Linked DNA regions of Homo sapiens: region 1 is linked to region 2. Evidence: fine-mapped expression QTL. A gene starts in region 2. The other region holds a variant in brackets. All regions are shown on one strand. Distances are from middle to middle. Region 1 has its middle 23 kb from the start of LINC01565. Region 2 holds the start of GATA2 (GATA binding protein 2).

The links. PIP is the estimated chance that this variant, and not a neighbour inherited with it, causes the effect.
Region 1: its variant is the best candidate, but not a certain one, in a credible set for the expression of GATA2 in whole blood (INTERVAL, PIP 0.52).

What each region holds. Positions count from the first base shown.
Region 1 is chr3:128,596,875-128,602,242 of GRCh38, forward strand. No RefSeq gene overlaps it. Among named protein-coding and RNA genes, the nearest start is that of LINC01565, 23 kb to the left of the region's middle. The variant G/A (reference allele first, on the strand shown) is at 2,280.
Region 2 is chr3:128,489,873-128,495,240 of GRCh38, forward strand. It overlaps GATA2 (GATA binding protein 2), which reads right to left and starts at 3,329. Exons shown (of 6, transcript NM_032638.5): 1 at 3,027-3,329. GATA2-AS1 (GATA2 antisense RNA 1) reads left to right here. Exons shown (of 3, transcript NR_125398.1): 2 at 1-197. RefSeq lists enhancers at 1-457, 458-1,267 and a silencer at 3,039-3,128.

The sequences.
Region 1 (5,368 bases), 110 kb after region 2:
GCGGTGAGCCAAGATCACGCCACTGCACTCTAGCCTGGGTGACAGAGTGAAACTCCGTCAAGAGAAAGAGAGAGAGACAGAGAGAGAGAGAAAGAGGAAAGAAAGAAAGAAAGAAAGAAAGAAAGAAAGAAAGAAAGAAAGAAAGAAAGAAAGAAAGAAAGAAAGAAAGGAAGGAAGGAAGGAAGGAAGGAAGGAAGGAAGGAAGGAAGGAAGGAAGGAAGGAAGGAAGGAAGGAGAGAAGGAAGGAAGGAAGGAGAGAAGGAAGGAAGGAAGGAAAGAAGGAAGGAAGGAAGGAAGGAAGGAAGGAAGGAAGGAAGGAAGGAAAAGGAAAGCTGAAGTCTAACACCTAATCCCTACATACAAATGGCTTCACTGAGACCAGAAATCAGAGGAAGCACTGAGGAGCAGAGGCAGCGGTCCTGCTTGCAGGGTCTTAGGTCTATTGTCCCATTACTCCTGACAAGGTAGTTGCTATGAGTCCCCCCACTCCAAAGATGGAAAAGCTGAGGCACACAGAGGGTAAGTCATCTGCCAAAGGTCATTGAGCCAGGAGGTTGGCCAGGGAGATCTCTGCTCACCGAGTTGGGACTGAGGAGTGGCAAGGGGGAGAGTAGTGTTTAGGGAGACCCACTGCGTGCCTGCCACCAGGCTAAGTGCCCTCTGCACTAAGCTACTCTCATCCTCGAGCAATATTAAGAGGCTGGCATCGTGCACCCAATTTTAGAGATGAAGAAGCAGGGCCTCCGGGACCAGAAGCCTCAGCTCACACAGGATTGAGTGCAGAGCTAAGGCTAGAGCCTGTCTGCCTGGCTGCAGGGCCTAACCCCTGGAGAGAGAAGACAACATCACCCTGCTGGTGCTGTCCTCTCAGCCCCCTCCATGCCCTGGGCACTGGGGCCGGATGCCCAGCAGGGGGTGGTGGCCTTGGCCCTGGGCAGACATTCTAGAAAGCCAGCAGTTCATTAGGTCCCCTGCTCCAAAACACAAGGGCCATGCTTGAGACTCATGGGTGAGGGCAGGGGTCTGCTGCTTCTTCCAACCCCCACAACCAAGATGGGCAGGGTGGACACTGGTGTTTCTCAGGCTCCTGTGAGTGCCCAGCCCTTGCCATACCAACCGGTGACAGATGTTGCTGTCCCAGCTGCTTCTCCACGCCTGGTGCAGCCCTCCAGCGAGCTTTGTCAGGCCTACATGGTGATTCAAACACATCTGAGTCAACATATAAATATCAAAGGATTGCACTTTTTAAAATCCAAATTTCACATTTCTCTAGGAAAAAAGTAGATCTGCCAGCCCTAGGCCCATACTCTCACAGATCCCCAGTCAGCTAGTGCTGAGCAGCAGCTACCTCTTTGCGTGAAACATGTGAGCATCAGTTTGCCCCAGTCCCCGCCACCTGCAGCCGAACTACTGTTTTCTTTCTTTTCTGGAGGCAGAGTCTTGCTCTTTCACCCAGGCTGGAATGCAGCGGTGCGATCTCAGCTCACTTTAACCTCCGCCTCCCGGGTTCAAGCGATTCTTCTGCCTCAGCCTCCCAAGTAGCTGGGATCACAGGCACGTGCCACCACGCCCAGCTAATTTTTTGTACTTTAGAAGAGATGGAGTTTCACCATGTTGCCCAGGCTGGCCTCGAACTTCTGATCTCAGGCCTCCCAAAGTACTAGGATTACAGGTGTGAGCCACCACACCCAACCCTACTGTTTTCATTTTTAAGGGCCCTTATGCTGTTGGTCTGCTTGTGGTGGAGGCATAGTCCTTGGTACCCATGTCTCCATCAAAAATTGGAAAATAGAAAATAAATTGAAGGGCCTCAAGTCTTATTCTGTGGACATGCAGAATGTTCACGTGCAGTCCATCTGCAGACGCCTGTCCTGTTCACTATGTGCAGCACCGCTGGGCCAAAGCTCCCTCTCAATGTGGTAACGGCTGCGCACTGCTCCTCCCCAGGGGGGTAATGTTCAGCCAGGTATTTAAGAATGGCACCTCCGCAGTCCACCCCCCCAACACAGCAGGGGCCCCAGGAGGCTTGGCGTCTGCGATCTCAGGTCTCAGGGCCCTCAGCCCTGCTCCCCAGGCCGTGCACACAGGGCTGCCTGGGTTTGAGGGTGCTCTTCCGTGGGCTCCATGCTTGTGGCGTGCATCTGCCCCAAGGCAGGCCGAGCCTGGGGCTGGGTCCTCTCTACCAAGCCCCTGGCACTTCCCGAAAGGGCTGCAGATAATGCAGCGAAGATGGCTGTCAGCGATAAGGACGATGATGACACCGACAAACGGCACTGCCC[G/A]GAAGCTTCCCGAAAGTGATCTGAGATGCATCTTCTGATCTGTGAACCTCCACAAATGAGAGTCCCCTACTTTCAGTTTGGGCCTCACATAATCGCTGCCAGAAACTATTAAAAATATATTTTATAAACTATCCCCCTTGCCCTGTTCATTTATTTCTGGAAATCTAGTCTTAGAAAGTCATTAAAAAAAAAAAACAGATAAAGGGAGGGGAAGAAAAAAGAAAAAGTTATGTTCATGAAAATGTCCACTGGGCAAGGACACACCCAAATGATCATGGTGGGAATGCGGTTTTGTGGGGAAATGTTTTGTTTGTTCATTTTGGTTTTGTTATTTTTAAAACTTTCTGCAATGTTATATCACTTCTCAGAATAAATAGATACAGGCCGGGAGCAGTGACTCACGCCTGTAATCCCAACATTTTGGGAAGTCAAGGCAGGAGGATCACTTGAGTCCAGGAGTTCAAGACCAGCCTGGGCAACATAGTGAGACCCCCATCTCTAAAAAAAACTTAGCTGGGTGTGGTGGCACACACCTGTAGTCCCAGCTACTGGAGCAGAGAGGTGGGGGCTGAGATGGGAGGATTACTTGAGCCCAGGAGGTTGAGGCTGCAGTGAGCTGTTATCATGCCACTGCACTCCAGCTTGGGCAACAGAGCGAGATTCTAACTCAGAAAATAAAATAATAAATAAATGCAAGCCAGGTGTGATGGTTCACGCCTGTAATCCCAGCACTTTGGGAGGCCAAGGTGGGTGGATCACCTGAGGTCAGGAGTTGGAGACCAGCCTGGCCAACATAGTGAAACCGCATCTCTACTAAAAATACAAAAAAAAAAAAAAAAATTAGGTGGGCACGGTAGTGGGCGCCTGTAATCCCAGCTACTAGGGAGGCTGAGGCAGGAGAATCATTTTGAGGCAGAGGTTGCAGTGAGCCGAGATCGCGCCACTGCACTCCAGTCTGGGCAACGAGAGCAAAACTCCATCTAAATAAATAAATAAATAAATAAATGCAACTTTAAAACTTCCAGGCCACCTGTGGTCCCGCCAGGTGAAGCTGGTGGTTAACAGCAAAGACAGGCTTCCTGGGCTCCTGTCCCCACTCCTGCAGTCCCCTGCCAGTGTCTGTGGCAAGGTCCTAACCTCTTTTTGGCTCAGTTTCCTTTTTTTTTTTTTTTGAGACAGAGTCTCACTCTATCACCCAGGCTGGAGTGCAGTGGTGCAATCTCAGCTCACTGCAACCTCTGCTTCCAGGGTTCAAGCGATCCTCCTGCCTTAGCCTCCCAAATAGCTGGGATTACAGGTGCCCACCACCACATTCAGCTAATTTTTTTTGTATTCTTAGTAGAGATGGGGTTTCACCATGTTGGCCAGGTTGGTCTTGAACTCCTGACCTCAGATGATCTGACCACCTCAGCCTCCTAAAGTGCTGGGATCACAGGTGTGAGCCACCATGCCAGGCCAGTTTCCTTATTTTTGAAATGGGCACAATAACAGTTCCCACCGCTTCGGGCCATTGCTTGGATGAAATGAGTTAGTTTGTGCAGAAGTGCTTAGAACAGCACCCAGCTCACAAGTCCTTCTGAAGCCCCAGCCACCCTCCTCTACCTGCTGCCCCCTGCCAGGGCCTGGGCCCCTCCCTCCCTGAGTCCCTTACCTCCTCGGCTTCCCCAGGCCTGCCCTAGAGCCACCCTCTTTCTCAGCCAGTCCTCAACTTTATGACCTTTATCTCTGGAACGCTGATGTGAAGCTCCGATTTGAGGTTAAACTTAATTCATTTTATGCAGAAGAAAACCTTAATTCATTTTATGTTTTATGCTGACATATTTCTCAGTAGAACACAGCCATCATGTCTTCATACACCTTTATATACTCCAGGGCACAAGTGAAAAAATAAAGTTTTTCTGTATAGTCAAAACACATTATCATCGCTGACAAAATAATTCATCAATTCTGTCCAATAGTTGGTTCACAGGCAAATTTAGAGGCAACATTTAAAAACTGTAATGTCCTTCTTTTTTTTTTTTTTGAGACAGGGTCTCATTCTGTCACCCCGACTGGAGTGAGCCCAGTGGCATGATCTCAGCTCACCACAACCTCTGCCTCCCAGGCTCAAGCAATTCTCCCGCCTCAGCCTCCTCAGTAGCTGGGATTACAGACGCGCACCACTGCCACCCGGCTAATTTTTGTATTTTTAGTAGAGATGGGGTTTCACCATGTTGGCCAGGCTGGTCTCGAACTTCTGACCTCAGATGATCCACCCACCTCAGCCTCCCAAAGTGCTGAGATTACAGGCGTGAGCCACCGCACCCAGCCCGTTTTTTGTTTTTTTGTTTTTTTGGTTTTTTTGAGACTGAGTCTCGCTCTGTCGCCCAGGCTGGAGTGCAGTGGCGCGATCTCGGCTCACTGCAAGCTCCGCCTCCTAGGTTCATGCCATTCTCCTGCCTCAGCCTCCCAAGTAGCTGGGACTACAGGTGCCTACCACCACGCCCAGCTAATTTTTTGTATTTTTAGTAGAGACAGGGTTTCACCATGTTAGCCAGATGGTCTCAATCTCCTGACCTCGTGATCTGCCCACCTCGGCCTCCCAAAGTGCTTTTTTTTTTTTTTTTTTTGAGACGAAGTTTCACTCTTGTCACCCAGGCTGTAGTGCAATGGTGCGATCTCGGCTCACTACAACTTCCAACTCCCAGGTTCAAGCGATTCTCCTGCCTCAGCCTCCTGAGTAGCTGGAACTACAGGCACCTGCCACCACGCCCAGCTAAATTTTTTTTTTTTTTTTGAGACGGAGTTTCACTCTTGTCACCCAGGCTGGAATGCAATGGCGCGATCTCAACTCACCGCAACCTCTGCCTCCCAGGTTCAAGCGATTCTCCTGCCTCAGCCTCCCAAGTAGCTGGGATTACAGGCACAAGCCATCATGCCTGGTTGATTTTTGTATAGACGGGGTTTCGCCATGCTGCCCAGGCCAGTCTCAAACTCCTGAGCTCAAGCAATCTGCCCACACCTCGGCCTCCCAAAGTGCTGGGACTGTGGATGTGAGCTCCCCTGCCCGGCCAAAAGTTTAAAAATAAAGAAAAGAATGAGGCAGAAAA
Region 2 (5,368 bases):
CGCGTCCCCAGGGATAATCCCCCGTGTCCGGCAAAGCTGCCCCGCTCGAGCGCGAACCCTGGGACCCAGCGCGGGAGGCAGACCAGCAGCTGGCCGCTGGGCTGTGAACGCCAGGACCGAGCGGAAGCTTCCCGCCCGGCCGCGATCGGTGCCGCGGCTCTCAGGGAAGTGGCTACGCGCGTCCCTCGGGAAAGCAGGTAATTCGCCTTTTTCTCCCACCGGCGCGGTAAAAATTACCCTCCCCCTCCCCGTTCCGTGTGTATTCCCAGTTTCAGCGCAGCGAGCTCGGCGTCTAACCCCTCCGCGGCAGGGTCCCGGCCACTGCGGTAGTGGAGGTGGCCAGCCTGGCTGAGTCCCCTGCCCAAACGTCAGCCCTGTGCTGCCGCCTGCCTGACGCAGAGCGGAGCGAGGGAGGGGATTTAATTACCCCGCTCGGCAGCTCAGAAAATCGCCGCACAGAGGGGCTTAGCAGGACGGTTAAGGAGTGCTTGAGCAGGGGCCTCGGGAGACCCGAACCAGCCTCCTTGCCCGCAATCCGGTGTAGAGGAAAAAAAGGAAACAGGAGTTCTGCCAGGTCCTTTCAGGCCTTGGGGTTGCCTTCCTCGACAACGCAGGCAGGAGCCGGCTTGACCGAAGCCTCCACCTCGGTTGCAGGTCCTGCGTAGGATGCGGGACTGCTGCATTCTCTGGCGGAAACGAACCCGCCTGGGAGAGAGAAATGCGACGCCAAGTAGCAGGGCGCCCAGCTGGCCAATAAAGAGGGACCCGCGCTCGACAATGTCTGTGTGTGCCAGGCAGACCGAGGGACACCAACCGGGCCCCTCCCCATTAGGCCGAAGACATGGTCCTCCCACCTTGGGCCCCAAACAAACTCCCGGGGAGGGTCAACGCAGCCCCCAGAATCTGCTGGGGTCTTGAGGCGCTGTTCCAGGCCTGGTGAGAGCAGATTTACTCCAATTTATGGGCTGGAACTTTGGGGTCCCCAAAACACCTTTAGAGGGACGCGTTCCCTTTTTCAGTACTTTGTTCGTTCGGGAGTATAGTTGGAAATGCTGGCGCTGCCTTTGATCACATTAAGAAGCTGTCACTTTCCTTACTTGGGAACAAGATTTCTCTGAGGACTGGAGAAGGTCAGCCAGGAAGCAGAATTTTCGAAGGACCCTTTTGGCCCGAGAACTCACAGCGGCGATCGCCACCATTTGACCTGGGTGCTTCTGCCTGGGAGCTGGGGAGGTAGCAGATCTGGTGCCCGGTTCTAGAGTGCTTCTCAGGCCTCTACTAAGCCGCGGGTGCCAGGTGGGGACACAGAGATGCCCAGGTCTCCCCGGCCGTCCAGCCCCCCCCCCCCTCTGAGCCCTTTGTTTAAAGTTAGCTCATCCGAGGCGGCCCCTTTGGGACCATAAGTTTGCCCTCCCTTTGTAACCTAATTCTTCTCGCCTTTTCCTTATGGGCAGCTAATTGGCCCGCGGTGTGGGGCTGGGGGTGGGGTGTCAAGGAAACCCATTTGCTAAGGGACTACCTTCCATAGAGAAATTTAATTCGCAACCCAGCGGCCTCCCAGCCCCACACTGGCAATAAACCTTGAGGGGTACGGGGAGGAAGTGGGGTGCCTTAGCAGATGGGTTCAGAAGTTCCCTTAAAGCCGGGGCATTAGATCTCAGGCCAGCAGCCATCCCTCCGGGGGGGTTCCCAAGGGGGGGACTACTGCTATAACGGCCCCTCCTGCTCCTTGAGGTTCAATTCCAGCCCCTTAAAGCAGAAGGCTCCCTCCCTCGGCATCAGTGCAGGCTCTCCCACCTCATTACTGTTCTGTGTCTTTGGGAATCGTAGAGTCTGTGGCCCCCACGTCCTAGGTGTCTCGGCACCCTGGACCCAGGCGCCTCCGAGATTCTATATCGCTTCTGACCCCTACCTTCAAGCCTGGCAGGCTCCCCGCGGAACCCTGCTGAGACCCGGAGACAATCGGGCCGTGCTTCTCCCTCCTCCACGAACAGCCACGGTTTATTTGGAGCGGCCGGGGCCGGCGGCCTGACAACTGGTAAATCCGTTTCGTTAGGCACAATTTGTCTGCAATTTGTCAGCCCGGCTGGGAAACGCTCCCCAGACGCCTCGGCTGCCGCACGGGCCCTACCTGGTTCTCGAATCCTGCCTGCTCATAAACGAATCCTAGCACGGGGTGCCTGCGTAGACCTGGAGCTCACCACCAGATGTTCCCGACCTCGGGAGAGGAGGCTTTTTCCAAAACAACGAATTTCCTTCCTTGTTTTCCGGTAAAGGAGCGTTCGCCACACACGGGGTCCCTGAACGCGGGGCCTTTCCCCTCGTGGTTGGAGCAACGCGGAGTTCAAGCCTGGCCGCCACAGAATAATTTTAAATGCCCCGTTTTCAGACAGATCCAGAACGCCGTCTACGCCTACCGGCGGCAGATCTTCAAGCCCGCGGCGGCCCCATTCTTATTGAAATCCCACTAAACGGATTCCGACTCCGGCTTGGGGCGGGGGGAGACTTCCAGACCCGGCGCTCTCCCCCACACGCACCCCAGTCACACAGGATAAAGGGCTGCGGGGCGCAGCGCGCGGGGGCGCAAGCAGGAGCGAGCTGGGTTAAGCCGCGAAAAGCCGGCGCACGGGACCAGCCGGCAGGTGCAGCCGCCGCTCGGCGGCCCGGCTCGGACGCATCCGCCGCGGTGGCCTGGGGATTGGGGGCGGCCGAGACAAAGGCCCCAGTTCGGGGGCCGGGAGGCGGGGGTGCTTTGCGAGGCTCTGGGAATGCCAGGGTCTCGTGGCCTGTGGCTCCGAGAAATGGGAAGACAAGAGGCCCGAGGCGGGCCTGCTGTGCCCAGGTAACCAAATACTCCCTCTGGTTAAAGTCCCTATAACCAGGGTTTCCGGTCTCTGGCAGGGCCAAGGCGAGCCCCAAAGGTAGGGGCCACAGGGCAAACGGACCAAGCGATTCGGGTGCCAGGCGGGCCGGGCCGGGGGCGGGAAGGGCCGGGCCCAGGGAAGGTGGAAGTGGAAGAAACTCACCGAGCGAGGCGCGGTGGGCGGCGCCCCCGGGCGGACGGGGCCTGGAGTAGAGCTGGGAGCAGGGCGAGGTGCGCGGCAGGCGGGCTCGCGGGACCTGGGCGCGGGGTGGCGGCGCTCACCAGCAGAGCCTGGGCGGCACGCCGAGCGGCCGCATGGTGTTCAGCGGACCGCTTTTGTCCGCCTGGTGGGCGACGGGGCCCTGCTAGGATGGATGTGGCGGCAGGCAATAGACAGACTTGAGCAGCGAGTCCCGGGGCGACGCTGGCCTCGCTACCTTCCTGGCGCTCACGCTGCCTCTCTCTCCCCCACCGGCCGCAACGCGGCTTTTTATTTCGACATCACTTTGCGGGGGGGCAGGGGGTGGCGACGGGGGCGGGAGCGCCGCAGGGGGCAGGAGGGTACCCGGGGCTCTGCACCCGGCCTACCAGGTCCAGCCGCCTGGCCGGCCAAGGGCCGCTAGGCACTCAGGGCGCGCACACCCTGTGCATCCACACTCCAGGCCGCTCCCACCCTCTCCGGAGCGCACACGCGCGCCCCTGACCTCAGGGATGCTTGCTCAGAAAGCTTGGGACACGTCTTTACTGAGACTCTCCCCGGGGACCCTCAGGAGCTGTGAGCACACGCACTCACTGATAATGGTACACAGACGCCCGCTCCTCTGTCTTCAACCCACTTCCAGGAGTGCTCACACGGACACGCACACATCCCTGCACATGTGCACACAGCTGTGGCCGCGAGGACATCCTCAGACAGACGGCCTGGGTCACACCGACACACATGGCCATACAATCAGATGCAACTCGGCACTCGGGCTCACACTCAGGACGCCCTCACTGCCAGGCTTGTTTAGCTAAGTGCAGGCGCAGCCCCTCTCCCTGTCCCACCCCCCCTCCAGTTCCTAACGCTGGGGGACCCCCTGAGCACTTTAGAAGTCCACTGTCTGGTGTCCCCCTGGCCCATCTCCTTGGGGCAGACTCTCACAATGGGGGAAGCAAGGAAGTGTGCAGAGGGCTTGTTCACAGAAGTGGGAGTCAGGAGGGGGGGAGAAAGTGAGTGTGGGAGTCCTCATCCCCAGAAGGCCCCTGGGTTTGTGGGCAAAGACAGTCCAGTCCTTGTGCTGCCAAAGTTCTTACTAAGGGATTCAACCAGTCAGCGTCCCCCCACCCCCACCCCTGATTCCCATTCCAGCAGATCAGGGAGAGTGAAAGTGGCCTGGGGACCTTGAGCCCAGAGGGAAAGTGCTTGGGCTTGGAAGGACTGGGAAATCTGTGCTCCCGTGCCCAGGTGTGCCCCAGAGGAGTGTTTCTGTCCCCTGGTCTTTGTGACCCCTGCTGTCCATAGGTCTTTCTCCAAATCTGGTGGTGACTATTGCATTGTGTGTGTGTTCTATGCATGTGGCTCAGAGTCTATGTCCTGTGTGCCCAGGTGTGTCTGTGTGCACTTAGGAGCACACAGGAGTGTCTGCAAAACTGGGTGTATGAGTATGTTCATTTCTTCTTGTGGGTTCCTGAGAGTTTGTGTATTGGGCAGTAGGTCACAGTGTGGCTATTTCATGACCCTGGAATTTGGCACAAGAGAGTGTGTCTGTGGAAATGGTTGTGCGTCCCTTTGGCTCTGTGTCTGTGGGGTCATCATGTCAGAGACTCATGTAATGAGGGGTGGGGATTTCCAGGTGTTTGCCCATGTGTCTGTAGCAGTGTGTGGCATGTCTATGAATGGGTGTGTTTTGGAGTGTGTGTTTGCGTGTGTATGTGCATGTATCTAGGCATGTGTTACTGTGTGTATTTTTGTTGTTGTTGTTGTTTTGTTTTGTTTTGTTTCTTGAGACAGGGTCTTGATCTGTTACCCAGACTGAAGTGCAGCGGTTCAATCAGCGCTTACTGCAGCCTCAACCTCCCAGACTCAAGCCATCCTCCCACCTCAGCCTCCTGAGTATCTGGGACCACAGGCATGTGCCACCGTGCCTGGCTAATTATTTTTATTTTTATTTTTGTGGAAACACAGTCTCACTATGTTGCCCAGACTGGTCCCAAACTCCTGGACTAAAGCAATCCTCCCACCTCGGCCTCCCAAAGTCCTGGGATTATAGGCGTGAGCTACTGCGCCTAGCCTGTGTGTGTCTTTAATAGTTTGTACCTGGGTATCTGCATGTGTCCTTGAACTGGTGTATGTGTAGGTGTGTGTGTGTGGTGTGTTGCATGTGTCTGGATATCCATGTATAATTCTCTTTATTAATTGATGGCTGTTGGGGCGTGTGTTTGTGTTTGTGTATTTGAACATGCATTTGGCTATGTGCATGTCCATCTGTCTTTAACAGCATAGGTATCAGTGTATATCATTGT